2 separate regions of the Homo sapiens genome follow, and region 1 is linked to region 2. Evidence: fine-mapped expression QTL. A gene starts in region 2. The other region holds a variant in brackets. All regions are shown on one strand. Distances are from middle to middle. Region 1 holds the start of MIR8064 (microRNA 8064). Region 2 holds the start of STIMATE (STIM activating enhancer).

Region 1 (15,472 bases), 51 kb before region 2:
TTGCCTCCTACTGTAGTTACAGTCCCTGCTCCTCTCAGCACCCTGGCTCTGCACTCCTGGTGGAAGATGGGCTGAGAAGGCCTGCCTGATGCTCGCCTTCAAGTCCAGGACAGGTAGGGCTCTGAGAGGCAGAGGGCAGTCCCAGGGTACCTGGTTTAACAGCTGGGTTCATGCGCCCAATTCGGACCCAATGTGCTTAAGTGAAACACGTGCTCATGCAGGTCTAAAAGGAAGGTCCTAAGTGGAGTGGCCTCCTCTGCACTTGTCTCACTTGAAGTCCAGGATGTCTCCCTTCTAGCTCATCACACCTTAGCAGTGTGGCTTCCTGTTCCTAACCATCCGTGGCTGCCTCTGAGCTTGACAAACCACCAAGCAGTGCCCCTACCTTGCTGTTTCCACAGCAGGGAAACGGCTGGGGTCAGCCCATTCCACAGTCACTCAGCAAACTCCCAAAACCACAGGGGCCTGTGGCCATGCTGAGGAGTAGTGACCATTCCCCAGGGAGGGGACACGGCCTAGAAGCACCTTGCCCTGCCTGTGGTTTAGAGAGTGAGCTCTCTCACCCCTGCCTCCCTTAGCCACCTCAGCTTTGGAGGGTGAGAAAAACAGGATCACTTTGTGAGGCACATGTTCTCCAGAATGCTGTGCAAAACAAATAGGTGACACTAGGATGACAGGTACCAGGGCAGCAGGAGAGGAGGCTCCTGGCGCTGAGTCCAGAGGCTGGCTCTGAAGGCTGCAGCAGTGGGGGCTGGGAGGCCAAGACCACTTTAAACCGTGATTGGAGGCTCTGCAGACAGGCAGACTGCACAGGAGTCTGGTAGTCTTGGGTCCTCTGGAAACAAAGACCTCTTAGCTAAGCTCCTTTCTTGGTCAAATTTAACTAAGATCTCTAATCTGCCAGCAGGAATGCTAGAGCTCATGGGCCCTGGGCAGAGCCTTTCCTGTTCCACACTCTGCAGCTCCTGGATCTGCATCCAGACCAGCTGCTCCAAGCTTGGGTCTGACCTTCACAGAACCATTGGGTTTGCTGATTCTAGAGAAGGGCCATCCTCCTTCCCTCCCCATCATTTGTCTCATCTTATCATAGGGCATCATCTAATAATATTCCAAATAAAAAACTCCCGATTTTTCCTCCTGCCAGCCCACACCCCATGAAAGGCAAATAAACCCATTTCTTTGGGGACTAAAAAGAGTTTTTAAATACAATAGTATGAAAATATAACTTAAAAATATAAAAGTCAAACAGCATACGGAAGACTTAAAAATCTCTGTTTTGCCCATTAGTCCCGTAAGTACTTTGTAGGAAATAAACACATACCCCCAACCTGGTAACACTGTCACAACTCATAAAACCAGCTTCAGAAATCAATAGTTACAAAAGCCATTTTGAGTAAGAAAGCATTCCGGTTCCAACTTGGTCAACGAGTCACTTTTAGCCCGAGGGTGTTATGTGTTCGCACTGCCCACAGCCACGGTGAGGAGACCCACCCACGGTCTGTGTGCCTGTGCTTCCTTCCACCTTGCCACTCGGTGGTCGGACACGGGGCAGGGCCTCAGGTCCCTCACAACACTGTCTGGGACGACAACAAACAAACACAGCTCCTTCCTTGCATATTTGGTCAGTGTTTGTAGTGCAACTGAATGGGGACCTCCAGCCGCCAGTGGCCCCCTCGGGCGCTGGCTCCTCTTCCCTCTTTTTAAGTCACAGTAGTCTGGGGGCAGGCGAGAGCGGGCAGAGACAGCAAGAGGAGCAGAGGTAGAAAGGAAGGGCAGAGAGAGGGTAAGGAACGATGCTGCGGGATGACCTCTGCACACCAGCGGCTGGCGGGGCCCTCCCGTCACCCCCAGCATGGGAATGTGTCATACGGGTAGCCCAAAGCGGTGCTTCTTTTTCTTCACAGGCTTGAGGGGGGTCAGTCTGCGGAGGTCCTCCTCCACGTCGGACTCCTCCATCTCATCATCCGCTGAGATCAGGATCTGAGGCAGTAGAGAGGCAGGGCCTGAGTCACCCCCAGCAGGGCCTTCTTCATTTGCCCTCCCTGGACCCTGGGCCCTTCAAGTCTCATGTTTTTTTTTTTTTTTTTTGGACAGAGTCTCACCCTGTCACCCAGGCTAGAGTGCAATGGCACGATCTCGCCTCACTGCAACCTCTGCCTCCTGGGTTCGAGTGATTCTCCTGCCTCAGTCTCCTGAGTAGCTGATTACAGGTGCGTGGCACCATGCCTGGTTCGTTGTTTTTTTTTGCTACTTTTAGTAGACATGAGGTTTCACCATGTTGGCCAGGCTTGTCTCAAACTGCTGACCTCAAGTAATCCACCTGCTTCGGACTCCCAAAGTGCTGGGATTACAGGCGTGAGCCACCATGCCTTGCCAAGTCTTAATGTTTCTTTACAAGAGAGTGAGGGGAAGCTCCCTGTACTCAATGAGACGTGCTAGCCTCCACAGGCCATGTTCACTCCAAGGACACTCATGGGCTACTGAAGCCAGCACTGAGTCGACAGACCCCCTTCCTCTGCTAATGCTCCCCACTTCTCAGTCCACCTCCAGGGGAACCGACCTCCATCAGGACAAACTCAGCAGGGATCTGCAGCCTAAGGTCACCCTGGCTAAAAAAAGCTCAACCATGACACATGCAGTTGTTGAAGCTGCCTTAAATACTGCAGAGGCAGACTGAAAAGCCCCTTTCAAAAGGAAGAGAAAGCATCTGTGGGCAGGGGGAGTTCAGCGTGGCTGCTCTGAGCCAACTCTGTAACTGCTGAAGACAAACAGCGGCACTTTGCTGTTCTAAGGCCCTGGAATGACTCAGCCATGCAGCTGGGGCAAACACACTCATCCGCTGCCCGCCTGCCTGGCTCCTTAGACCTCTGAATACCAGGGAAAGGTTGGAACCACCTAGGTTGGGATCAGGAGGTCCAAAGCCCACCTATGCAGGGAAACACGAACTCCTATTCTAGGGCAGGGCAGGCAGTCTCACCTCCTCTTCCCTGCACTGTTCCCTTGCGGGGCTTCCTGCCTCTAGTCTCGGTCCCGACCACCACACTCCCACTGCTCCTCACCGCCTGTACGAGCACATCCCAATGCCTCAGCCTGGATCACAGGGCATTGCCGATCTAGCTCAGCCTGTGCCTCACTTCTTGTCCTTCTGTCCTATGCTCCAGAATACAAGCCACAGTGCATTTCACACTATGGCCCAGACACCAAACCATGTGACTGTGAATGCTCATGAGCTGCTGCTTCTGCCCATAACACTGTTTGCCACTCACCTAATGTTCACCAAGCTCTCATATGACAGGTGCTGGCCAGATTCTAGAGACAAGCACCTAGAGAAGACACGGCTTCCCCTCTGTCCTACTATCTATTCGTCTTCTGAAACTCCCTCCAGGCTGTCCCAGGGCCCTCGTTGGGTTCTGCCTATGCCTCAATCTTAGAACATATTACGGTGTCATGACGAAATACTTATGTGTCCACCTGCACCTCACCCACGTGTCTGACAGCCTCTCCGGGGAAGACGTTTGTCTCAGCTTTTCTGCAGCTCCCACCTGCACACTTCCTAGGCCTCCCATGCCTCCCACGAGCTGGCCCTGCACGCAGATGTGGGGTGAGTGCTGCGGGGCCGCCAGAACACATATCCTGGCCTCAGGGCTGCTATTCATGGCCACCGTTCTTCCCTGAGGTCCAAACCCTTGAACTCAGAAGACCAGAAAATAAGGGGGGGATGAGTTTCCTCCTGCAAGGTCTGGCTACCCCTATATTTTAGAAGTTTCCAGCTGTCTGAGCCAACACTTCCCTTGCTCTTTAGTGTTGGGCAGAGATTCAAATATCCTAATGCTTGAAGATCAACCATTAGGCCCATGACGGTCCTTGCCAGCTCACCAAACAAGGCAGAACTTCCCTCTCCTGTCTGTCATCTCCACTGACAGAGGAACTGTCGCAGGCAAGCCACTCCCATCTGCTCTGCCCTCCTGCCCTAGGCAGGCCCAAGGGACAGTGGGAATGGGTCCTGGCTGGACAGAGCTGTCTGCCCCTCGCTCATCTCTGGCTCAGCCTCTTCTCCTGCCCTCTGGCTCGCACTGTGACTCTGCACTCAAGGGAAGAACATACACAGACATGAGACCAGAGACCCCCTTGGGCCAGCGATACGACGGCTTGGGCCCTTGGAGAGTCAGGGAGGCCCTACCTCAGACTCAGACTCCTCGTGGGATGCGGCCCTCCGGTAGCGGACCTTGCTCCCATTCCTCGAGTCCTGGTTGGCTCCCCTTTCTTCTAGCTTAGCTTTCGTCTTCCCCTTTCTCATGAGGAAATTGTCCACTACCCAAAACATCAAAGCCTGTGGGAAGGAAAAGTGCAGGTTACTTTGGGATAAACCATTTTTCAAAGCAAAGCCGAACAGCCCCCATCCGCCCACTCCCATTCCAGGTTATAAGATCCAGAGCTATGGAAAGAAAAACCCAATCCAATCACCCTGCTCTCTCCCAAAGCTTAGAAAGAGATTCCCAGTCTCCACATCCTCGGGTTCAGTTTTCTGATCAGAGTGTGCAAGGAACGTGCCCTGACGGGTTTTTGTTGTGGTAACTAGGGGGAACAGCCTGTTTGGGGCCTGGAAGCAAGGTCTCTGGACACGCGTTCCAGGCCCCTCCCCACAGACTCCATGTGGGTGGCCGGCACACCCTGCTGTCATCTGTTTGTCCCAGCTTCCCTCACCACTTCTGTTTCTTAACTTCGAGCCATTGTGCTCGGGAGTTTCTCAAGATCCGTGGTCAGGAATGAACGATGGGTACGTTTGGAACAATCCTGAACTAGAGGCTGGCGCTACACATGGGTGGGGCTTCTTGGTGGGAGGCCCCTCGGCAGGGAGGACAAGACAAAGCTCCCAGGCCCCTCCATCCTGGACGGGAGCCCTGGTATGGGGCCCTGCCTTTTGAGGGGGTAATCCTGCCATTTCCAGGTCTGGGGGTGGGAGAGGTGGCAAATGGTCACGCAAAAAGACCTGAGGGCTACAGGTGAGCTTTCTGTCAGACTCAGAACTTTGGACAGGAACCCTGCCAGACAGGGAGCAAATCGGGATAAAAATGCAACATGGCACTGACGTTGACAAAGAAGGGGACGATCAGCATGACGATGGCCAGCTTCAAGTCTGGGTTTTCAATGGGATTCAACAGGGCCACCTGTAAAGAGAAGCAGACTCAGTGAGGTAGGGAGAGGCCACCGAGAGTGTGCCTGGGGTGGGTGGGTGGTACCCATAGGCCCTGAGGGAGCCTTAGCTTAAGACGCTTCCTCCAAAGCCCAATGGGAGCAGCACCTCATGCCTAGGGTTCCCAGATGAGACTGTCCACAAGGAACCCTTGGAGACCACATTAAGCATCTGGTGCTTTGGCAGCTTTCCCCTCAGTGTGGACTTGCAAAGTGCAGTGGGCTTACAGCCACCAAGCCAGGGCAAGGCAAGCAGTGCCCACCGGGAGAGTGGAGTGTGGGCTTCAGGGGGCTGGAGGGGTGAACACAGTGGATGCTCATTATAGACACCAGCAATGAGGCCCCAGACCACTTTCTAACAGAAATCCCACACCTCAACCACCCCTAAAAGACAACAGCACTGAAAAGCCTTGGCTTATTTTCTTAAATAAAATCCAAACACAAATAAAACCCAAAGGAGGCCAAGCTGAGCCACTTGTTCTCAAAGCTTCTGGCTGGTCTCATGTGGGCATTCGGGGATGAGGAGTGGGGGTTTATCTACACAGAACTGGGGTCAGAGGGCGGAAGCCACGGTTGGGGAGCCCGTGGGCTGGCCAGGGCATCGGCACACTGAAGGTCACAGACTGTGGAAGCTGCCCGTGGCACCACATGGCTCAGTTAAACTACCAGCCAAGAGAGGTGTGTGACAGGATGTTTGCCGATGTAGAAACATGTATTGTCGCAAGGCCTAAAAACCACCATCAGATGGTAGCAAGCCGAGGGCAGGGACTGTATTTCATTAGTTTTATACATCCCAAGGCTTCATCTAGAACAGACATTTAAAGTGGATGGATGCTAAGAATTGACAAGCTCTTTGGAGTAGTTGCCACATCAGACCAAATGCAGGACACATTCATAGAGTTAAAACAAGTTTGGTTTTCCTAGAGTTGGCGTATGTGGGTGATGGGGAGGAAGTGCTGCTTGCTCAGCGTGGCAAGGAGCTGCTCATGCAGGGACGAAGCAAACCTTTTTCCACTGAAGTATTAGGAGGACGATGAAGACGACAGACTTTTCAAAAATCATGATCACGATGTAAAGAGCGCACTGCCCGACCCAGGCTCCACACTGCAGAGGGTCTCCTGCAGGGACAGGCGGGTGCTTAGTCACATGGGGCCCAGGCATCTGAGTGAGATGATGTCCCCACCCCACTCCCCCACACGCACCCCAGAACACTGGCTCTAAAGCTCTAAAGGTACTTAATGAGCCCCCCCAAAAGTCCAAAGGATTACCTCATCCTTAACAGACAAATGCAGTATTTTAAATAAAATCAGAGAATTCCTTATTTGAAGATACTAAAATGGCCTTTCTTTTAAGAGATTCTAAGATAGGATTAAAAAGCACTAAAGTTAGGAAGTGCTCATTGCTGGAGCTCAGAAAAGCTGTTCTTTCTGCCGGCTGGCAGCAGAAGCTGTATGAAGCAAGACTGCTATTCTTATCCGTTGTTGATTTTTCCAGTGACAGCGGGGCTGCCCCTCCCTTCTCTGTCCATGAGTGGACTGATGTTTGTGGATGATGAAGCAGGACCCAGTCGCTTTGTTTGTCTCCCACCTCCCCACCTCCCATCCCTTACCCAACTCCCCGGGCCATCCCTGATACCTCAGCCTCTTGAGAGCAGAAACGTGACTCTGGAGGAATTTGGACTCTACCTGTCCAGCATGGGTCACCCCAAACACCTTGGCCAGGGACAAGGAAGTGAAGAGAGAAGTCCTTGGGGCAAGGAGGTGGGAGGGATGGGCCGGGGCCCAGGGCTGTGACAAAGGTCCATCTGGGACCCCTTCAGTCACCATGCTTGAGAAACCGAGGGACCTAGTAGTACAAGCTGGAGGATGTGCAGGCCTTGGAATGCCTCCAGGACATTTTGAACGGAGAGAAGACCAGCCCCTCCAGGGAATGATCCTGTGATATGAAGAACCCTAGGGTGGCTCCTGGGAGCCACATAGGCCTCCCCAAAGTGGGAGACCCAGGGGAGAGTGGGATGTGGGAAGGTTGCCTGGGGCTCACCCTGGAAGTTCTGCCAGAGCTGCCTTACCACAGCTGGCCAGAAGAGGGGGTACAGGGTAGCATTTTGGGGGTGGCGGGGGGGCGGGAGGCTGGGGGGTAAAGGCCGTAATCCAGGCTATGAGAAGATAATTTGGTCCAAAGAGATATCTCCAGCTTCTCACTTGGCTTTATTGTTTCTGCAGCAATCCCTGTTTGGGCACCCATGCTGGAGGCCCATGCCCTGCCCAAGCCTGTCAGCTGTACACAAGGGAATGACTTTATGCAGCTGCAATGGACAAAACACCAGGCCATTCCCTTTTCTGGAAAACCCTGGGAGAAGTGTGGCAGAAACACATCAGTCGCCTCTTCTGAGGTCTTCCTTTCTACTTTCACTTAAGGGATAGGAGACATTTGAGCCAAAAAACCCATTTCATAAGCATAATCCCTCCTTGCTAGGTTGTTAATGAGTTTTGCAATCCTTTTCCTTTCGGTAAGTCACCTAACCTTATCGAGAACAGTTCTCAAAACAACAGATGAACTTATTTGTGAGAAACCATTAAGTAATTAAGTAGGTTTGAGGACAGTTGGACAGAAAGCGCCACTAGGAAATCTCTCTGTGAGGACTGGAGTGTTTGGGAGCCAGCGGAGCGCGCGGCACCGCTTATTTACTATGGAAGGATGTCCGCTCGCTCAGTGTGCTCACTCCATCTGCTCTTCAGTTTTAAGTGACTGACAAGGAGGAAAATGCTTTTCCTCCCATACGCCTCACATTGCCCCAGTGTTCTAGGTTTCTGCTACACAACTTAGCTACAGCTGCCTCTTTAGATGCTAAAATAAGAAAGTTCAGAAACGTGAGAAAAGAGAAAAAGCACCTGTGACCCCGTCTGGCACACCATTTCCTCTGGGAACCCAGATCTCACGCAGCCACCGTTGGGAGAAGCACACGTGGCTGCTGTGTTTCCTGATTCCTGTTTCACTTGCGAGTCTTTCAGATGTCCCCCACAGTCTCCTCTTTAAAGGACAGACATGCCAGGCAGTGTTGCATGTCCTGCTTTGTCATTGCTGTTATTGTTTTCTTAGAGATGGGGTCTCACTCTGTCATTCAGACTAGAGTGCAGGGGCATGAACACGGCTTATTGTATCCTCAAACTCCTAGGCTTGAGTGATCCTCCTGCCTCAGCCTCCCAAGTACCTGGGACTAAGAATGCATGTCATGTGCCTGGCTAATTAAAAAAAATTTTTTTTTTTGTAGAGACGGGATCTTGCTTTGTTTCCAAGGCTGGTCTTAAGCTCCTGGGCTCAAGCGATCCTCCCCGCTTAAGCCTCCCAAAGTGCTGGGAATGACAGGTGTGAGCCACTGCACCTGGACCTTGTGTGTCTTGCTTTTTACTGCAATGAACAACCTCAGGCATGTGGGTGTTTTGTTTGGGTTTAATTATTTCCTCAGTAGAAGTCACAGCAATAGGGGCCAAAAGGAGGGAACACATCTGTGGCGAGAGGCTTTCAAAAGGGAGAGTTTGGCCAGGGATGGGCAGCAAGACCCATGAAGCACCGTGACCCAGATGTCAGGGCTTCCACATGGGAAAGAGTGGCCTGGTAATCAGAGTGCAGACACCATGCGTCACCTGGATCTGGTCTCAACCGCCGGGGCTGTGTGGCTTATTTCCCTGAGTCCCGCATTCTCATCAGCAAACTCTTGGCCTTCTCTTCTAGGAACAAAAGACACATCCTAGAAAAATAAGCCCCTCTTCTTCATTTACATGAGAAGAGAGCTGTGGTACCTCTTCCTCAAATGGATGGGCAGGATAACAGGTGTGGGAGGTGGAATAACAGCCCCACACAGTTGCCTACATCCAAATCCCTGGAACCTGTGAGTGTGTAGCATCACATAGCAAAGGGGAATTGAGGCTGCAAATGGAATTAAGGCTGCTAGTCAGCTGACTTTAAGACAGGGAGAGTGTTCTGAGTGTCCAGGTGGGGCCAATGTAATCACAAGGACACTTTAAAGTAGAAGGCTGCAGGAAGTCAGGGCAACTCGATGTGGGATAAACCCAGCGACTCTTGTTGGCTTGGACGACGGAAGGAGGGGCCGCGAGCCAAGGCTTACAGGCAGACTCTAGAGGCTGGAAAGGGCGAGAAAACAATCTTCCCAGAGGCTCCAGAAGCCAGCCCCATTGACACTGGGACTTTAGCCCAGTGAGACCCATGACAGACTTCTGAACAAAAAAAGATAATCAACTTGTGTTGTTTCAATTTGTGCCATGAAGTTTGTGGAAATCTGTTACAGTAGCAATAGAAAACAACAGAAATTGATGGAAATAGAAAACAACAGGTAACTGAGCAGACAAGCTATCCTTCCTCAGCCTGGGGAAGACTCAGGATGGTCCCCACAGCTTTATTTGGAGACATTCTGGCTTGAAGACTCTGGCTCCCAAAGGCAGTGGTGGGATGACCCAGGGGCAGGGGCTGAGGCAGGCCAAGAGATTGAGAAAGAGGCTGAAACAATATCACTGCCTTCTTCCTTTCCATCCACCCTTGGGGATGAAGACAAAATGTGAGGGAACAGCTGGTAGCGTTAATGCTTGATGTATCCGAACCAGACCTGATCTTCACTCCCAGGTCACTGAGTGGCACCTGACAGACTAGTGGTGACCAGTGGATTCACCTTAGCACTGGTCAGCTATAGTAGAGCTGGGAGCCACACCTTCTAGAAGGGATCTCAACTGCAAAGTAGTTGTGAGCACTGTTTGTGGGGGTGGTGGGAGGGTTTAGGTATCCTGGTGCAGCAGGCCCAGGCTCCCATAGCCATGCACTGGCTGGGTGAGCTTTGCGCGTCACTTAACTCCTTTGGGTGCCCATTCTATAAATGACGATGATGCTGTGCTGGTCCCCCGACTGTGGTCCATTTCTGTTCTGCAGCTGAGGACTCAATGACTCGCAGCTTCTCAGAAGCCTTCCCTGGAGCCATAGGAGGCACAAGCTGTGTGTTGGACACTATCTTAAGTCAGTGACTCATCAGGCATCAAGTACGGGGCTAAGAAAAGCCCTGCCCTGAGCTCATCTCCCCTCAACGGAGACAAACAATTACTTAACATTTCTGGAAATATCCAAGGTACTCATAGCCAGCTCCATGAATTGGCTCCCCTTTTAAACTGTCAGTGCCTTGTGAATCTTCAGCCATCTAGAAGTGAGTGGCCCTTGAGCCCACAGCCATGAGCTCTTTGGGAGGCATGACCAGGACAGGAGAGTGGGGATCCCGAATTCCATCCGCTCTCCCTCCCTCTTGTCCTCTGTGGCCCTCTCAAGGCAAAGGCTCCACTGATACTGATCCACCTGGAAGAGGAGCTTCTGTCTGCAGACACCTGGGGCCAGCTGTGAGGGTGGGAGAGAGCTGATGTTACCCCTAACTCTGTCCTGAAACCTCAGAGGGCAGTGAGGGCCTGAGGAAGGTGCCCTCCAGTACCAGCCGTGTGGAATGGCCTAGCAACAGGACAAGCACAGATGTGCAGCAGAAAGAGGGGCAGGGCTTGCCACCTCGTTATTGAACACCTTCGAAAAATGAGAGCTGCCCCATCTCTTTAACCTGGTAGGCAGGTGATGTGAGCTCTACAGGAAGCTTGGCAGAACGAAGAGTCCCTGCGGGCCTGTGTGTGGGACTGCTGGTGTCTTCCATTAGAAGGAGCAGACATTCAGCCCTCTCTCTGTGTCTAGTGTCTCCTGCCTCCTGCCACCTTCCCTGCCATAAGGTGAGGGCCTTGGTGGTAAAGCAGGCACCCACACCCACAGGAGGGTGTGCTCAAACCCAGAACAGCCCCCTCTACCACACAGAGAAGACAATGGCAGCTCCCCAGCCATTTCTGGATCTGTTTGCCTGGTGGGCCGCATGGGGCAAGGAGCAGAGACCTCCAGCAGTTCCCTCACGCCCTGTCCGGCATCCACAGCATATTACCATATTCGCCGAAGCGCAGGGACTCCCACTGCTGCCACTCTACCAGGACGCTGACGGCGCGCACCCCCACGTAGATGAGCAGCATGCCCACAGTGGCGTCCAGGAGGAAGTTGATGAGGTACCTGTGAGGACAGGGCACATGCATGGTCACGGCAGAAGCCACGGGGCCAGAGGTCATGGCTGATGCAGGGTGGCCTGAGGGAAGCGGATGGACCCAGCATTTGTTTGGGCCCATTCTGGGGGCTGGGAGCCCTCATGTGCCAGTGTAGCTGTCACTACCATGTGCTGAAGCTCATCAGGAGTGCGACCACCTGAGGGAGGTGAGTGAGGGACAAAGACACTTTAAAACTGCCAGTGCTGGCTGCGCGCGGTGGCTCACGCCTCTAATCCCAGCACTTTGGGAGGCCGAGGCGGGTGGATCACGAGGTCAGGAGATAGACACCACCCTGGCTAACACGGTGAAACCTGTCTCTACTGAAAATACAAAAAAATTAGCTGGGCGTGGTGGCGCGCACCTGTAGTCCCAGCTACTC[G/A]GGGGGCTGAGGCAGGGGAATCACTTGAACCCGGGAGGTGGAGGTTGCAGTGAGCTGAGATTGCACCACTGCACTCCAGCGTGGTGACACAGCAAGACTCTGTCTCAAAAAAACAAAACAAAACAAAAACCTGCCAGTGCTTCTGCCAGGCGAAGGTTCAATGGAAGACAGAGTACCTGGAAGCAGCCAGGGAAATCAACAGGAAACAGAACTTAACTGATGACAGAAACACCTAGGCAATGATTCTGCTCACTCCCTGACAGTCCAGCCCAGGAGGCCCAGAACAGTGCTGCTGCACCAGAGAGGTTCAGGAAAACAGCCTCTCGGGTTTCGCAGACAAAGAGGACAGGGCAACATGGCCTTCGCCCATCCCCATCTGCAGTCAAGCATAAGTAATATTTTTACACTGTTTTTTTCTTTTTTTGAGATGGAGTCTCCCTCTATTGCCCATGCTGGAGTGCAGCGGTGCAATCAGCTCACTGCAGCTTCCGCCTCCTGGGTTCAAGTGATTCTCCTGCCTCAGCCTCCCAAGTAGCTGGGATTACAGGCACCCACCACCACACACAGCTAATTTTTGTATTTTTAGTAGAGACAGGGTTTCATCATGTTGGCCAGGCTGATCTTGAACTCCCGGCCTCAAGGGATATGCCCACCCTGGCCTCCCAAAGTGTTGGGATTACAGGCCTGAGCCACCGTGCCCGGCCTACACTTTAAAGAGCGAGCTTTACTCCCCATGGGAAAAGGCAAGATAACTGGGGGAGTGAGAGGAGGAGGCTCTGAAGGGCATACCACATGAACTGTGTTCTTGTACGGTCTGTTTCCATCCGACACAAAATTTTTTCTCTCACCAAAGAAAGGCCCTTTTCCACTCACCCTCTCTTGAGGGCCTTGTACCCAGATCCAGCTGAGCACTGCTGACCACAAGCTCCAGCTCTCCATGGTAGACAGAGTGGGAGACAAGGGCACTGGGTCCAGTACTGACCCTCTACGATACCATGTGGCTCTGAAATCCTTGCAGGTAAGCTGCAGGACACCACACACTCCAGGTGTGGTGAGCTTTCCAGTTGCTGAGGCTTGAGACATTTTGTGTAGTCTCACAGCCTCCTATCCTGGGCTGGAGCTTTGGTGATGTGCACACAGCACTCTGATGCCAGAGGGCGCAGCCTGTGCTAGGGTAGGTCAGCAGGAAAACCAGTGAAAAGAGGGAGGGGGCATTTCTCCTGCCTGCCCTTCCTCTGTAAAATCACAAGGGGTCACTCTTAGACCAGAGATGGCAGGAGCAGCAACTGCTTCCAAGGCAATTTCCCTCTGGCCTGAGGCTATGCTGCTCTCAGATACTTTGTGTCCAAAGCATCTCACGCCTGCGAGAACAAGGACATGTGATGTACATACAGACCTTACTTTCATTCATTCACTTAGCAAACATTTACAAGCCTACTGTGTGCCATGCCTTGGGAATAAAGAGAGAAAGTTCTATGTTCCATCCTCAACACAGATGATTCTGACAGACAGCAAAGCATCATGTGGGCCCTGGAAGCCAGACTGGCTGGGCTCCATGACTCCTGAGCGGTGTGAACTTACAGTATATATAACCTCTCTGTGCCTCAGTTCCACCACTGTAAAATGGGGATGATCAAAGTCTCCATTAATATATGGCAGGCTGCTATGAGGACAAAGGGAGGCAGAAGATGGGGCCAGGATGAGGTAGGCAAGCCTCCTCTGCCACTCCACCTGCTAAGAGAAGCACTATGTGGGTGCCATCAGCAAGGAGGACAGAATATCATGGCCGGATTGAGGTCACAGATGGATTGCTCTGGGGGCTGCATGGAAGGCACATTGCAATGATAAGGTGGAAGAGGTCAATGAGGGTCAACAACAGTTTTGACCCTGAATGGCTGACGCCACAGAGAAGCCCTGGTGTGTCCTGGTTCCAGAGCAGAGACACTCCTGTAGGGCATTATCCTTCCTTGCCAGGGGCGGCTTGGAAACTGGGAGACATAAGGACACTAGAAAATCAAAGGACAGAACTTGGATTGATGAACAGAAAGCCAGTGCATGGGGAAAGTGTCAACACGCAAAGCCCTACAAGCCAACTGATAGCTGTGTAAGTGAGCTCCAGGACAGCATGTACAGGATGGTCTCTCAGAGGAGCACAGAGGAAAAGGGGAGCACCCTCTCCCCAAGCCAGAGGGAGCAGGACCAGCAGCAGAAAGCAAGGCCAGCCTATATTTTCAATGGAGGGGCAGCTGATGTTTGCACTCAAATAGGGAACACTTACAGTGAACAAGGGTCCTCTTCAGTGAGATCTGCTAGGTATACATTTGCAAAGTGGATGAACAGCATTCCTATGGCTTGTTTGGAAGTGTCTAAAAACCTGTACAAAATAAACCAGCACTGGTTATTAGCCTGACAGGAGCGCAATATCCAATTTGAGGAAAACGAGAAGACTGAAACAGGAAGAAAGCCACCCCAACCTTCCAATCACTGGTTATCTCTTCCTGGGGCCTTGAGCACTAACTCAGGCTTGGCATCTCAGCCACCTTTCAAAGCCTTCAATAACACTGCCTTTGAAAACCCTAAAAGGTCAAGGATTGATATTTAAAATACGTTTTAAATTTTTTTCTTACTTCAAAATAAAATGCTCAATCGCTGCTTTGTGATGAAGCCCAAGGTGCCTCTATTTTAAAGAGCTCCCATTCAACTTCACTCACAATGAGCTAAATTATGTGTGAAATTAACAAGACGTGCACAAATCCAGTACTGCAGCTGGATCCCTAAAGAAATTTCAGCTGCTGCCATTTAAACAATGGGCTAGATCAGGGTAGGCAAATTTTTTCTGTAAAGGACCAAAGAATAAATATTTGAGGTTTTGTGCGCCATATGATCTCTGTCTCAATTCCTCAGCCCTGCCGCTAGAGAATGATGCAGTCATAGACACAGCTATTCCAATCATACACACCGGGCCTGAGGGCTGTAGTGTGCCAGCCCCTGGACTAGATGGTAAGCATTTCAAAAAAGAAAAAACAAGGGTGTTAATCTCTGAGAGGAGCTAACCCCGACCCATGTGACAGGAGCATGGTGGAGACAGCGTGTGCCTTCAGTATGTCCTCCACCACCAGCACCAGGTAGCCATTCTCCTCTGTGGTCGAGGCACCTCTTGGTCATGGCTGTCTCTCACAGCCGCCCAGCTGGGCAGGGTCTCAGGACTGCAGAGATTATCCAGACCAACCCAGCGACGGTGGCTGGAAAATCATTCCCTAGACTCACTGCAAAGGAGGAGTTACCAAAGGACAACGTATGTAAGACTCAAGAGAGCCCCAAAGCTAGGTCTCCCACCAGGTCCTGCCCCAGCCCTGAGGTGGGAGTCACACATTCTAAAGTTAACAGGGTTTGAGAAAAATCAACGGGGGGAAAATAAAAAGAATTATCAAATTCGCCAGCAACACGTTTAAGAACAAGTACACGCTTAATAATTTTATCACAGTGATTACTGACGTTTCCTCTGAAGGATAAAATGGCTATTTTGTTAGGAAATGTAGAAGCCCAAGGCAGCCTAAAACAGGCAGCTTCTTGTGGACACAGTGCTGTCTTGAAGAGCTGACTGTATCCTTCCAAGTGATGTATTATTTTGGAGTTTTGTCTTTAGAACCTACTTCTGAAGCTTTACCACCATTTCACGAAGGAAAAATTGTGACTGCAGGATCATAATCTGTGAAATAAATATATGCTTGATGTATATATCAAAGTCTATTTAAGAAATATATGTATTTGGTCTCTG
Region 2 (15,472 bases):
ATAAAAGCTAGTTAACAATAAGGAGCGGCTTTGTTACTATCCAAATGGAAGGTCTGCACAACCACACTGCCTAGCTCTACCACTTACTGGCTGTGTGACTTTGAGTGGGTTACTTAATCTCTCTGCGACTCAATCTCCTCATCTATAAGACGGAGATACTATCAGTCCCTACTTCTCAGGCTGTGTGAGGACTAAATGCCCAAGCCTGGGTGAGCACGGCACGTCTGTCCACATCACTGTCTAGCTCAGAAGGCACTACCAAGAGGATGGGGGCCAGGCAGATACTGGGTCCCTGTTTCTTCTTCTGTAGTCCCAAAGATAAACAGTGTATGTTTCTCAGGGGCTGCCACATGAGATGTAAAACTGCTTTAAAAGAAAGGTTCTCAAGGAAATAATACAAATGGAGCATGCAGTACAGCAGACCCTGACTTGACACCCAATAATTTAACGCATCCTCTTTAAATGCACCCGTAAAAGAGGCCTGAAATGGAATAAGGAAGGCTCTCTGGAAAGCCTCTGAATACACTGCCTCTTTGTTCTGAGACCCTCTGCCTCTACCCTCTCCAGCGCTGGTCTCTTCTACGTGAACCTTTGCTCTTACCACCCCCTCCATGTCGAGAGCCCTTAGCCTGGTGCTCAGGTGGAGCTTCCTCAGGGACACTTCCTCGAGTCCCCAGGCGGAACCCCTCATTCCCCCTCTCCAGTGTGTTCAGGCTTCTACAATCCTCTTCACGCTATACTGGAATTGCCTGCCTGCCTTCCTACAGCCTGTTCCAGCTGTGAGCCCCTCAAGGACTGGGGACCAGTCTCAGCTCTTCGTCAAGGAAACATCCAATAGCGGGCTTGGCACCAAAGTACTTAAGAGATCCTGATAGTCCACTGTTCTTATACTTTGGAAACAACACACTGACCTTCTAATCTGTTCTTCTAGAGCAAATATGAGTTTGCTGAGAAATTCACAAACTGAACCGATGCAGTGGTTCTTAAATAGGGGCGATTTGGCCCCCCAGGGGGCAGTTGGCAATGTCGGGAGACATTTTTGGTTGTCACAATGAGAGATTCTACTGGCATTTAGTGGGTAGAGGCAGGCTGGGGATGCTGTTAAATGCCTTGCAATGCACAGGAGAGCCTCCCACAAGAAAGAATTATCTCATCCAAAGTACCAACAGTGCCAGGCTGAAAAACTCTGGATTCAATGGATAGCTTTCCTAGCAGTGGAGTAATCTAAAAGAGACTCACCAACTGCTTCTATGCATACACAAGGAAAAGGATAATTCTTCTGGGTAAACCTCAAGATTATTAATGACCTTCCTTATAGTCATATGGCAACCAACAGGGAAATGAACTCTGTGAAACTCAGCAGGTAACCTGAAGCCACCCAGAGCCCTGCAGACCCTTCCTCACCAGCGAGTAAAGGGACTCCGTGCTGCCTGCTTCTGCTGCTCTGGGGTAGGGCGGGGGTGCCTTCGCCTCAGATGCTAGACCTCAGCCTTGGGGTAGAATCACCACCCTCTGCCCAGGCAAGGAAAATCTTCACAAAGGCCCAGAAAAGCAGACCTAGCGTGTGACTCATGTAGGCATGAAATGATTGATGAGTCATTTCAAATTTATATTTTTAATGTTATCAACAGTCAAAAAACAATAATGCTTTAAATAAAATTAAATAAAAATAATTATCAAGAAAGAAAATCAGAATTGTTCAGATAGAAAAAAAATGAGGTGAAGTAGCCACAGATACGGAGTAATCAGAAAGTGAACCTGTGTGGAAAGAGGGGTGGAAAAAGCCGGCAGGCACAGAGGAAGTGGCTCAGGGTGTCTGGGGTCCCAGGGACCCGGCTTACATTTCAGTTCTGCACTTACTAACCAGGAGCCCTTGTACAAGGCACTTCACCTGCTCACCGACCGCTTCTGTACAGGGTTCCTGTGAGGGGGGTTGGCATGCTGGGAACTCAGTGAAGAGTAGGCTGCAGAAAAGAGGCCGGCTCCAGGGGCCAGCGCCACCACCTACTACCATGGGCCCTGGGCAAAGAAAAGCCAGCGACTTGAAGCAGGTTCATCACCTGGAAGTGGGGCAGCCCCAGGCACCCACTGCCCTCTCTCTCAGAGCCCACATGAGGGCCCTGCCGGTAAAAACACAAGAAAGATTAGGTCAAGGAAGATTATTTTGGCCACGAAAGCCACCTTGTTTTGGCGCATGCTAATCTGGATTCACACTCACTGTGCTGGCTGGGCTAAAGGTGCTTTTCTTTCTTTCTTTTTTTTTTCACTGCCATGCACTCTGTGAAGAGGGCTAAAGGTAAAGACATTGTACAAACAAGAAAGAAAGGGGAATGTTTAACCTAATTCAGAAAATAAGTTACTTAAGCACTTGTGAAACATTTTTCAGCCCAACTCATGAATACAATGTAATAACAAGGATGAAGACACACCCCCAAGGAGGGCCTAACATGTGCCTGACACCAACCCAGCTTCCTCAAACACATTCTTTCTCATCTCCATAGCCCCAGAAAAGACAGATTATTACCACATGTTACTGGGGAGAAAACTGAAGCTTTGAGAAATGCAGAAGTTGCTCAGGGGCACCACATGGCAGAGCGAAGCAGACATGGATGCTGGGTCAGGCTGGATCCAGAGCCAGGGATCCTGTTATTTTTAACCACTTGTAAAACCCCTTCAACAAATCTTCATGTTTGTGCAAATATACTAACTGCAAAAGACTTTAAACAGATATTAAAGCAGCAGAAGCATGAGAGGCCCCAACAGGGCAACATGTGGCCAACAGAGGTATTCAAAAGTTTAAAAAAAATGCATTTGGTAAGTTATTCTACAACTCAGATTGTCCCCTAATTCAGACAACTTCCTGTTGTCCTGATTTTATTCGAAATTAATGAAGTTACATGATAAATCAAGCAGCAGATTGCCATTATGGATAAATGCTACCAAATAAATAAACATTTAGAAAACCTGAAAACTTTCTAAAAATGAAAGCTCTGAGCCAGCCAGTATGCTAACATTGGCCACAACACCAGCTTGGCATGAAAAAAGGGGCGTTCTTCCTTTGCCCATGCTGGCACTCCAGAAGGAGGAAAGGACAGCGACACTGATTGAGTTTGTGCTGGGTTCCAGACCCAAAGACAGGCGCCTTCACTCGTGAGCTCCAGCTCCAATTCAGCTGTCACTGTATTCTGTTATTTTACCAGGAGGAGGTGATCACTGGGTGAAAGGCTACTGGGAAACAGAGTATTCACATGATCTCAAAGTATTATCACTGCAGAGATCCCTTATTAATTGCCCAGGGGAAGATGTACCTTTACGAGGGAGAGACTGAGAGGTCTTCCATCCACCATCACCAAGTCATCAACCTTATTAACACTAATAGTGGGGCAGCGTGATGTCACATGCCTCCTGGTGGAATGTACATGAAACATACAGCGCCGCTTATGGCGTGTTCTTGCCATAAAACTGGGTATCTGAATCTAATAACTGCTCCAGACCAAACTCAGGAAAACAGGGGCCAGTGAAACAATTCAAACACCACAAGGAAACACCCAGACAACTCCAGAATGTGGGGCACTCCACACAACAAGCAGCCAGAACTCTTCAAAAAGCCAGAAACATTGAAAAAAAAAAAAAAGTGTGCATGTATGTGTAGGAGGAGGTTCTTCTAGAAACGAAAGTGACTGAAAACGTAACCAGACACAACGTGTGGACCTTGATTGGATCTTAGCTTTTAAAAACTCCAGCTATAAAAGACTTGTGACATTTGGGGAAATGTGACTATGGACTGGATATGAGATGATATCATGGAGTTATTATTAATTCTCTTAAGTATGATGATGAAATTGTGGTTATGTGGGAGATTGTCCTTATTTTGGGGAGACTTAGCTGAAGTATTTAGCAGTAAAGTGTGATGCTGGTCACAATTTACCTTCAAATGGCTCAGCCAAAAAAAAAAAAGCATAAAGAGGTAAAGCAAATGTGACAAAATGTGAACAACTGCTAAATCTAGGTAGAGGGCAGACAGATGTTCAGTGTATTATTTTTCATGTTTTCTACGTTTGACATTTTTAGAGATAAAAACCAGGATGGGGTGGGGAGAGGTGATCGTAGGGAAGGTTGTGCCAACACAAGCCTGTTCACACAGAGCACACAGGGAGGCCGGTTTACCACGGAGAAAACCCCAGAAACTCTCATTTAAGATATCAAAGCTGAGTGGACTGGTTTGTGATTTTTACTTTGGATTGCAGGAAAAAAGTTATCACTTCTCAATGTTAGCAGTGTTTTTGTAAAACATGGACACATTTCTCCCAGCTGGCTAGGCCCCATGTCTATAACAAAAATAGGCAGGCAGATTTATCCAAGCTCTCAAAATGCTTGTTTTATTAAAAACCAATTCTGTCTACACTTCAGCCCAGAACCCTGACTGTGCACGGTGAGGGAGGCTTGAGTTTGCTTTGCATTCACATGTCCTGAGAGCAAACACCCCCAAATGCCAACACACACACTGGCCAACACGACCTTTGGCTGACAGCTGGTTGGCTACCCTGCACTGGAACAGTTTGCTGAGCTCTAGGACTGCTTAGCTCTGTTCTGCTGAGACCCTAGCTGAGCAACTTTGTCAAGTCACAGACTATAGACAAAACCACCAAAACGAGGAATTGCTTAAAACCACCAAAACGAGGAATTGCTTGGCAAAGCCCCCTCGTTTAAAGCGTTTCTTTCTATGCAGATACCTAGCAGACACTTCAGAAAACTCTAAGTGGAAAGTATCTTCATAAGCTTGTCTCTGAGTATGTTCATCTTTCCTTGCGTACACAGGGTACCTTAGCTGGAGCCTCTAGGAAGCCCGCCAACTCAACAAGGCAGTGCTGACACTGGGACATGTGTGTGGGTGGTGCCTGTAACAGTCTGCATGTTTATGCAGCTTGAATAATGGGCTACCATGTATGACCTGGCATATACATTCTCAACTGCCTGGACCAAGAGGGTCTATAAACCCTACATAGTAAGGCAAGAAGTCTATCAAAGCACCAGAATGAGAAATTCTTGCAGAACCAGAATCCTCCCCAGAGACATTAATATATATAAGTAATCTTCCTTCAGGACAAACCTCTCCAGATTAAAAACAAAGAAACAAACAAACAAAAACAAGGCAACGTGTAAGTGGAGAAAAAAGTGATTTTTCTGGATAGAAAAAGGAACATAAAGACAGTGGTCTGAGGGGTCACTGAAATCAGGGAGGTGAAGTAAGGAAAACTACCTCACAGCTTGTCTGCAGAGAAATGGGTTCATTCTACAGTCAGAGCTGGTCCAACAGGAAACAATAGTGTTGGCCATCAGGACTGGGGAAGCGTTCCAGAAGACAGGCAGTGAGCCCATTGCCTCGAGGGCCACGGGTACTCAGAAGGGAAAAGACTGTGATCTCAAAAACAGCCCCTCAAAGGACAACGGCTGTTTAAACTGCTCAGAACAGACTGGTTGGTATTTAAAATGTTTGAAGATAACAGAACTGAGGAAGGATGGAGTGGCCTCACCTTAACACACACTAAGACTTCCCTCCCTCAGGGCTGCGAGGGGGACCCTCGTCAGGGGAGCCTGGCCTTCAACAGATGCCCCTCCTGGCAGCTCCGCCAGACTGAGAAGGACGGAGGACTAATAGCCCAGGACAAAGCCAAATGGCTCGCAGATGTACTTCCTTAAGGCTACCTTGATCTCGTTCCTCTTCCACCTTAGAGATTTCTTCCTCTTCCCAGTAGTTCAAGAAGGAAAAGCCTCGCAGTTCTATTTCAACAGGACCAAGAAATCTGAGAGATAAGAAGGGCCCCACCCTGACTGCATCCCAGTCAGTGGGCTTCTTCTTGTCCAGCTCCCAGAGTACCATTGCCCTGGCCTGCTCTGTCTGCTTCTAGGTAGGGGGAGGAGGCTCTTGCTCTCACCTCCATTTCTGTGTCAGGGCAGACATAGCTCTAGCCTTTCCAGCTCTTCTCCCCATCACTCCTACCCACATCACCCCAGGACCCACCAGCCATTTCCACAAGCTCCGTCCACGTCAAGCCTCACAGTGAACAAGAGACTGCTTTCTAGTTCAATCTCTGCACACAGAAAGTACCAACCACAGTGGGATTTGCACATGTGCTCACGCTGAAGATTAAGTAAAGAAGTGAATATGTCCCTGAAGACTCCACTCAGAACACATTCAACCCGATACACTTCTCAGCTGTGAGCAACTCTGCCCTGTCATCATCACATTTCCTTCTCTGAATCACAAGTGTCAAACCCTAGGGGACAAGCCGGGCCATCAGCATCAATCAAACCTATGGAAACAGCCAGAGCTAGGCTAAGAAACCTCAGGTTAGGGAGCAAAAGAAAAATTTAACCTACACTTCCTTCAGAGAGAAAGGAAGGCTGTCTGGAGGACAGAGAAGTAGGAGGGGTATGAAGATCCACTCACCATGTCTTGAAAACACACACGTACAGTACATGCGCCCAAGTCAGCAGCGGATTTTGGCTAAGTTGTCACAAATTATTACTGTGGGAACAAGTGGGTATTTGTTTAGCAGAGAAAAAGCAAGGCAAGTTGGGACTAAAAAGGAAAGAAAAAGTGGCAAACATAGACAGTTGGGCACTTATAAGACTTATCAAGGACAGGCCACCAGAAGAACGCGGTATCCATGATCAGAGCCTCTTCAGGGTTACTTAAAGCCTGAGAGAATTCACTCAAAGAAACCCCAAGTTATAAACAAGCAAGGTGGCCACTCCAGCAACTGGACCCCACAAGACAAAGGCACACAGCTGCAAGATCCCTCCTGAGTACCCCAAAGCATACTTTCTGCAGGAACTCTCCACTCTGTCCACACAAGCACAGTGGGGAAGTTTTGAGAACAAGTCATTTTTGGAATTAATGACTCTGCACAGATAGTTATAACCTTTCCTTCCCCCTAAAACGCAGTCACAAGGGCACTCCTAGGCTTACATGTCGAGCAAAACTTCTTGTTACTTTAATAAGGGAAGGATGCACACGATGAAAAACAGAAGCCCCCCCCCACCCCCCATCAGCACACATGAGAACAGGGTGGGGGCTTCCTTCTCTATTCAGCCACTAAGGTGCCCAAGTTTAATGGAAAAGGAAACTTAAAATATAAAGAATAAAAGTGGAAAGGGAACAGCCAGGGGAAGCTATAGATGCGGCTTATTAGGAAAGCTTGGGACAGAGATGGAACAGGTGGGCCTGTTCCGGAAGAAACGAGAGGAAGGGGATCTGGGGAAGAAGGCAGACTGGGTGGGTCCTACCCTGACAAAAGGGAAACTAAAGCTGAGGAAGAAGGGCCACGGAGAGGGAGGCGGGTACTGGGAAACGGAAGGCATGGCCCTAACACTCCAGGTGTTGAGAGGGATGCAAAGTAGCAGGATTTAAATGTGAACGGAGAAGGCAGATCCTTGAAGAGTGAAGGGGCAGAAAAGAGCTCAGCATCGCACTGGGGATTGAGGGATGTGGGTTCTAAGCACGAAGAGCCCCTGAGAAGGGGCGGACAAGGGGATGTCACCCTTGGGGGTCATGATTCCAGGCTGGGAAGTGGGGTAACAATTCGAGATGGTAAGGTGGGAGGTAGGCGAGTTTTAGACTGGCGTCTCAAAAGACAGACGTTTAAGGTGGAAAGGGGAAGGGTCACTCCTGTCTGGAGGCCACAGCGAGTAGGTGAGGGGCTCGGGCTACCCCTAGTGCAGGAATACCCAGCCTGGGTTTGCGGGGGAGGAGCAATTCGGGTCCCAAGGCCTGAACTCTCCGCGCAGGAGGGGCCCCCAGGGGGGCCGGGCCGCGGCTGCCGCGCAGGGCCTCCGGAGGGTCGGGGGGTCCCAGACTCACGCATTAACGTGCTGAAGGCCACGACGCCGAGCAGCCCCTGCAGGAAGATGCCGAAGCTGTGCATGAGCGCGCCGCTCTCGCAGCGGCCCGCCCCGGACGCGACTGTGGAGGGCGGCCCGCCTGGCAGTCCCCGGCTCGCGTTCCCGGCGGGGCCCTGCATGACAGGCCTCGCGGGAGGGGCGCGAGGGCCCAGGGCCCGCCCGGCCTCGCTGCCTGCCGGCGCAGCGCCGCCAAACCCGCAGCCGGGATCCCAAGCCTGAGCCGGTACCTCCGCCCGGCCGCCGACTCCGCGCCGCGCGTAACCCGACGTCTGAGATCGCAGTGCCTGATTGGCGCAGCCAAGGTTGGGGCGGGCCTCGGCCGCGGCAGCTCTCCCCACCCGCCCCCGAGGGGCGGGGCTCCGGCCGGGCCACGGGGCGGGGTCGCGGGTCCCGCTCCCCTCTCCAACCCCGCCACGCCCGCAGGTAGACAGGCCAGGTGAGCCGGCCACCGCAGACCGGAATGAGAGCCTGGGAATCACGAGCTCCAGGTCCGGAGGTAGGAGCTGGGACGGCCTGTGGTCAAATTATTTTTCCCTCTAAGGAAAATCCCTATATCCTGGAGAAATTATCATCATTCCTGAATTCCACCCTCAGAGATCGTGATTCAGTAGTTCTGGGGTGGGTCCCAATAGTTTGCAGCCTGGATTATTCTGAAGCAAGTGAATAAGGAAAACAATCTGAGACTGAGTACAGGAGTCTTCCCTCCAACCCAGACATTTGAGTCTTTTTCCTACTTCCCTAGCTAAAGGCTTATCAAGGCCCCAAGTCTATTTTCTTTTTTCATAGACATAATTTAAATGGTCACCTGAATCCAATCACTTTCATTTGGAAATATACCAGGTTTCACACTGAAAACCTGACGTGCACATGTCCCACCTTATTCACTTGGGGAGCACAACTACCTTTAGAGTGTAAAAGACAAATGGTTGGTATTTTCCAGGCTCCAACATCCCCCTGCACACACACACTCCCATCTAACCCTTTCCAACTTCTCAGAACCTGTGCTCTGCCTTTAACAAGACCCTGAGTCCCCATTCTCTCACCCATTCTCCCAGCCCAATCTGGGCTCTCTCTGGATACCTTCTTGTTGGTGCTCTAGAGCCGCTGACCTTCCTGCTGCAGAATGTCAGTGAACACATGGTGTAAGTCCAGTTGACACTCACCCATTCTCCCAGCCCAATCTGGGCTCTCTCTGGATACCTTCTTGTTGGTGCTCTAGAGCCGCTGACCTTCCTGCTGCAGAATGTCAGTGAACACATGGTGTAAGTCCAGTTGACACTCACCCATTCTCCCAGCCCAATCTGGGCTCTCTCTGGATACCTTCTTGTTGGTGCTCTAGAGCCGCTGACCTTCCTGCTGCAGAATGTCAGTGAACATATGGTGTAAGTCCAGTTGATACTGAGCTACGTGTTTTCAACGGTAAATATCATCTCTAGGAAAAAGTTTCCTATTAAATAGCCCCCCAAATTCCAATTACCTAAGAGGGTTATATGCTAGCTAAAAGCTTTCTTGGTGAACAGGAATATTAACCTGATTAGAGAATAAAAATGCAATTCTCCAGCCTTCTCTTACATTTTCACACCTCTGTGCCTTTATGTAGCATTCTAGCTGCATGGATGCCATTCCCTTTTCCCTGCTCCATGAACTGCTCCTCATGTGTCAAAGCCTTTCTGACCTCCCTCTCCCTCTTGCTCCCACATTACCTAGTGTGTACTGTTCCACCAAAACTTTTCAGACTGCTAAATTTGACAGCTGTACACATGTCTCTCTCCCACAGCTAAGTGTGAGCCTCCTGAGGGCAGGAATTATTTTTATTTACCCTTCAATTCAAATTCAGTATGGTGCCTGGTACAGAGAACATGCGACAAAATGCTTAATTTAAATGGAATTTTAATTTATAAAATTTTAAACTCTCCACAAGTACTGGCCGTGGGCAAATACAGAAAATCAGATTAAAAAAATAAATGGATAAGGGAAAATTAAAATTGCATGACTGTCTTTTAGTCTAAGAGGGATCTTATGAGGATGCTCAACAGTTAACAGTACATGTTTAGAGAGAACCAAACAAGAGGCTACGTCTTAAAGCAGAATAGATTGTGGTTGGGCATAAGGAGACTATTGATTGCTTGAAGACACAGACAGCTCAAGGAAAATTGGACATAGAGCTGAAAAGTGATGTTTTTGACAAAGAATTGTTCTGCACATCCAGCTGTGGAGGAATCCTTAAGGCTCACAGAGGAACAAACAAGAAGCAGTCTTCAGAGATCAGGGGCGGAATCCCCAATGTCAGGAGCAAGGTTGCTGTGGGGAAATTCTACTCTTCCTATCTTTCCTGAACTGGAATTAAAAAGCACCTAAATCCAGAAGGTAAAGGATGAGACAGCAAGAGAGGGGGAAGAATTCCGGAGTTTTATTAAAGTAGGAAGGAACTTCTCATCTATTTGGAAATGATTCTCTGAGGTCCCGCTGGAAAGAGTTTTAAAAAATTTACTCTGGCCAAAATGCCTTCCTTGTTGTCAAATCAGCACAAAGTTAAGGTTAAACATAGCTTAAGACCTGTTCTCTTTAGTTTTCTCACAACCACTTAAAACTGTCATAACGTACCACCAGTTTATATACAATCATATTTACAAAAAAAACACGCAAAATATTAATCCAAAATAGTTTTTTTTAATCCTTTGAAGTTATACCATCAAACTTGATGGTAGTTATTTTAATAGGTATTCTTGTGCATACTTCTTAAGTGTACTTTTATCTTTAATGCATAACTTTTGAAATTAAGAGGAAAAACAGCAAGCAGGAAGGATACAATGCAATAAGCATTTGATTTTGTTCTAAATGAGCAGCTTTAAAAAAAAAAGGTAAAATACATTAAACAAAGTGCATCAGTTCCAACAAGTTAGTATTAAAAAGAGGCCTAAGGACAGTGCTGGAACCAGCCAGGAGTCCCTCCCTGGCAGGCCTCTGATTGTCTTCAGAGAATATTCAATGAAAAAAAAAAAAAAAAAAAAAAGGAAGAAAGGAAGGGAGGGGAAAAGAAATGAGCACTTGAAATCTCAAGGGAAACATTCAAACTACCGTCTCCAGAGATTCTTGCAAAAGGAGCTAATGGACTGCCCAACTTTAACTCTGCCTAAGCTTTGTAACCTCCCTCAATCATCTGCTTTGTGACTTGATTTGCCCTAAAAGCCTACCCTCATCCTTTCAGCACTTTTGTCCACCTCCATTCTGCCAAGCTAGGTATGCAGTTAGATTGAATAAACCATGTAGAAACCCTCAGGCCTGAGTTTCCACACATCCTGAGAACAGGCACCCCCATCAGCAAATGGTGGCACCATTTCACTAGAAGGCACCATTTGCCTCCAGAAATAATGGGAGACCCTTGCCTCCCACAGATCAGGGTCCGTGCTTTTCTGCTGGTGTTGGAGACTTATCTGGCAAGGCTGTGGCTTGCTTCTCTCTTAAAACAGTCCTTTGTGATAGGCCATAGCACCAGGACAGACCCAATGGTGTATTAAGTCAAAAAAGACTCAAGAAGAGGGAGTTTTAGGCCTACTTCTCTATCTCCCCAACTCTCCACTCCTGGTTTTGCTGGTTCTTGTGAAAATCTCAGGCTTCTTAAACACCATACCCAAGAAAATGACTCTGCAGTGCATTTGCTGCCCACCACCTTCTACACCTCCCCATAAAGCTGCCCTCAGAAACAAGGCTACCTGTGTGGTCTGGGACAAGTACTGAAAAAACACCCCTGAAACCACCCTTGGAGTGGGCCTGGAACCAGATCCAGTTCGACTGAGCATTGAATTTAAAACTTATGCCCAAACTCTAAGTCATAGGTAGCTTGTTTGGATAAATTCAAGTTTCCAAAGTATGCACATTCTCACATAAGGGGTGGGAGTCATCAAAACTCACTAGTAAAACATCTAAAGTGAACAAAGTCAAGGAAGAATTATAATCGCAGGAAAGTAACATTTCTTTTTGGTTTTGCAGGAGGCTCTCTGTCCTACGATTTCTGAGTCAGCACCATGACAAACATATGGTTGCTTACAGTGGACCCAGGAGCAAGGAAATCCAAGCTTGCAAAGGGGGCATCTGGTCCCCACCAAGATTTGTACTTCATTTTTTGTAGTGATGCCTTCTACTCATTTAACTTCATAAGACCAACAGATTTCCTACTGATAACACAGAACACTTCTGAACTGGTGTGTGCACACACGGCACATCCTCAATATACAGGATCAGAGTTCAAATCCAGGGTGTGTTCCACTGTTGATCAATTAAACCAGTAAATGGTGTCTCAAATAGAACAATCTTTGGTGATATAGGTGCCAAGTAAATATAATTGCCTGTGATAGTTTTCCCAAATGTTCCCATCTAGATTGCCTGATATTCTATGTGTCCCTCAGAAACACTTTTTGGCTTGAGAGAGGGAAATGATTCTGAGTCCCACCCTACCTAAGGCCTCCTAAAGCTTTTAAATTGTATTCAGGTACCACATTCGTGACTGAATTGGTACTAGAGAGCAAGTAAAGTGTATCCAGGTCCTCTGGAAGCTAAGGTCCAATGTCTTCTCTCTCACAGTGAGAATATTTTACTTCCAGGAGAAAAGGCATATTAAGGCTAAGTTCTGAACTAGTTTTCTATGTTTGCTTCTACCATAAGTCAATAAATATTTATCAAGAAGCTCATCTTTTCCAGAGGTTAGTAAGTACCCTTCCCTGACCTCACATATCTATAACATAGATAAATGCTAGGAGCCACCTGCATTGCTGAACAAAGGCAGATAGCGTGCAAGCTTCCATAAATGCATTCCCTGCATTAGCCACTTCAACTCTGCTTCAAATGAGAAGGATGAAGATGGTGTACAAAGGAAAACAGCATAGTCCCCAGAAGCCCTCAAAATCTAGTCAAAATGTCACAGAAAAATCTGCATGTGCAGCAAAAAGGTTTCCCTAGCACACTAATTGAGCAGTAGTAGTCTAATATTGGTCAGCCAGCTTTTCAAGGTCCAGGAGGATGAAGTAGTCCATTAACCTGTTTTCTAAACTTGTCAATTCAGGGTAAAAAATGGGTCATGAAAAATTTTCTGACCTCAGGCAGGCTGTGGGCCCAGCTGCAGGTGAAATCCAGACAAATGCAGTCCCTTCACAATGTGACTGTTACACATTTAAGAAGTTGGTCTCTCTAAAAAACAAAGTTCTTGCACCTGTGTGCAACATACCAACATTTTACCCCAACATGGTGAGCTATTATCTGGCTTGAAATCTGTTTCAGCATCACAGTAACCAGAACATCATTGTTATCTAGCCCAGTCCCAGCAGCTTTGTGAGGTAAATTAAGTCCAAACTTTAAGTTAAAAAAGTGCCCTGTGCTAAATTCCCAATTATCCTTGCTTACATAATATACGGGAGTCGGCGCTGGGGGATATAATTCTTTATGCAATTGCCTAATAAACTATGCCTTAATAGGAGAATGCAAGAAATATTAAGGGAAACTCAACTTACTTGACCATTTAGAGTCAGCCTTTCTCTAGGAACGGGCTGAGCCTGAATAATCATGGTATAAACAAGCCTGTTGGGCTCTGACTCTACCTAGATCAGAGACTACGTAGGGCTGTATGTTTTGCCCTTCAGCGCCTTCATCCCCTCACCTGTGAAGGGAGATGATTCTTAATTCTGTGGTTTCTGGAGAAGTCAAAAGAGAGACAAAATAAAGCATTCATTGTTCTTGTGTTTGGTAAATTCCCTCTTATAGGAAATATATTTCACTTTCCTAAATAAGATAATAACACGAGGCCCTAAACATTAATTCCAGAAATTCTGTTCCATTATTCTTCCTCAAGGGGCCCTCTTTTCCTTAGTACCTTGACTGAACTCTCAGGAAATTTCATTAAGCAAGATTACCACCACTACCCACCAAAAGCTTAATGTTTAATGCTAATTATTCCCTAGCATTCCCTATATATCCTTGTCTTCCACAGACACAGATTTAAATTTTTAAAAACTGGATCTCTAAGTTTCAAACATACTAATTTTTACTTAAATGAAGCTTCTTCCCAGATAGATCTGGTAGGAACCTAAGTGAAGAGTTAATGATTTAATGTATGATTTAGTTGCAGGGCTTGAGTTAAGTTGGTTTATGAATTACCCAATGAAGAGAGGCTCCAGATTATTCATCAATGTCCACAAAAATAGGTTGGGGTGGTGGGGAATGGGAAAAAAAAATCACAATCAGTTAAAATTTGCTGTAATATTTCCTTATATTTGTAGAGCTGTTTAGAATTCACCCAGTTTGCAGGATTAAAACATTTTCAAATCTTGAGGAAGAATGATTGGGTTATAAATTTGCAGGTGATTAGGATAAAAAAAATTCAGCAAAGCAAACCATTTAAGGGAGACAACCTATGTATGTTTTTCCTCACTCCTCATGACTAGAATAGTGCAGCAAACGCTATTATTCTATAATAGCTAGCAATGGAATAGTAAGTGAAAATTCACCTGGAGTTTCATGTTAACTTGAGCTGGGCTAAAAGACACACTTAAAAGAATACTGAGTTGTTTAAATGGGAATCCTCGGACTAAAGATTATATTCAATTTAAAGGATTAGCTGAAAAAAGTCTAAGTGTGGCTAGGCAAAGAGGTTTCCAGAATCCTTAACCACATCTCAGTATTTATCCTGCCACTGAGGACACTGCTAACAGAAACTCCATGCTCTGCGTTACCCTCCAAAACATGTTTTCTGTGCTGTGCTTCTACACTGGAGACACCTGGAAAGAAGGACAAATGGGCTTCGCTGTGGGTCCATGGAACACTTACTGATTTTCACCCAAAGTAAAGACCTTAGAAATGAAACAGAGGTAGACAAACAACTCTAGAGAAAAGTAAACACAAAATAAAAGTCACTGAAGTCCCTCTGAGAATGAATAGGAAGAGGGCAATTAAACAGAAATACTAACAGTCTTGGTGATGTTACTTAACACAGGCAGCCTCGGCTGGGTCAAGATGGAGAACAGTAACAGTAGAGTTCTCAGATCAGGTCAGTTAAGGAACTGGTGTAAGTGCCCCATATAATGTTTTTAAGAAAGCAAACAGTTTCCCCCCCTCCAAATTCTGTCATAATTTTAGTGTTTATGTAGCTTAAAAATGGCATCATACAAAAAACCTCATACATGGCTGTAAGCTCAATTATCAACAGAGGTAGTAAACAAAGGAACTCCTAAGAATCGATTTTAAAATGATCAAAGTGTGACTATACATTCAAAACCCTAGAGCCACATAATCATCCCCAAAATGAACTGTTTTAATTTTAAAAAGTTTAAAAACACAATGACAATGAAGCACTGATATGCCTTAGGAACAGTCCCAAATCAGTGCTGACTTAAAGCTAAGTCCTCTCTTTCCAAGAAAAAGAAAGCAGAGAACAAAGTTCAATCTACAATGGGAGGGAACAGAATGAAAACAACCAAAAGGGTGCTTTCCAGCAGCCTAGGTTATTCTTTGTTTTCAGGCCACACCACTGGAAATGCTTTTCTTCTTATATAAGTCTTTTCCTCACAACCTTTATTTT

Evidence for each region.
Region 1: its variant is fine-mapped to the expression of STIMATE in whole blood (TOPMed, PIP 0.91).

The regions. Positions count from the first base shown.
Region 1 is chr3:52,838,631-52,854,102 of GRCh38, forward strand. STIMATE-MUSTN1 (STIMATE-MUSTN1 readthrough) reads right to left here. Exons shown (of 10, transcript NM_001198974.3): 3 at 13,973-14,068; 4 at 11,162-11,283; 5 at 6,199-6,311; 6 at 5,091-5,168; 7 at 4,181-4,330; 8 at 1,870-1,980. STIMATE (STIM activating enhancer) reads right to left here. Exons shown (of 8, transcript NM_198563.5): 3 at 13,973-14,068; 4 at 11,162-11,283; 5 at 6,199-6,311; 6 at 5,091-5,168; 7 at 4,181-4,330; 8 at 1-1,980. The coding sequence ends at 1,864. MIR8064 (microRNA 8064) reads right to left here and starts at 7,922; the gene lies at 7,833-7,922. RefSeq lists enhancers at 1,173-1,674, 5,855-6,355. The variant G/A (reference allele first, on the strand shown) is at 11,695.
Region 2 is chr3:52,889,427-52,904,898 of GRCh38, forward strand. STIMATE (STIM activating enhancer) reads right to left here and starts at 8,122. Exons shown (of 8, transcript NM_198563.5): 1 at 7,865-8,122. The coding sequence starts at 8,024. STIMATE-MUSTN1 (STIMATE-MUSTN1 readthrough) reads right to left here and starts at 8,122. Exons shown (of 10, transcript NM_001198974.3): 1 at 7,865-8,122. The coding sequence starts at 8,024. It overlaps SFMBT1 (Scm like with four mbt domains 1), which reads right to left. Exons shown (of 21, transcript NM_016329.4): 21 at 14,146-15,472. RefSeq lists a silencer at 7,675-8,384.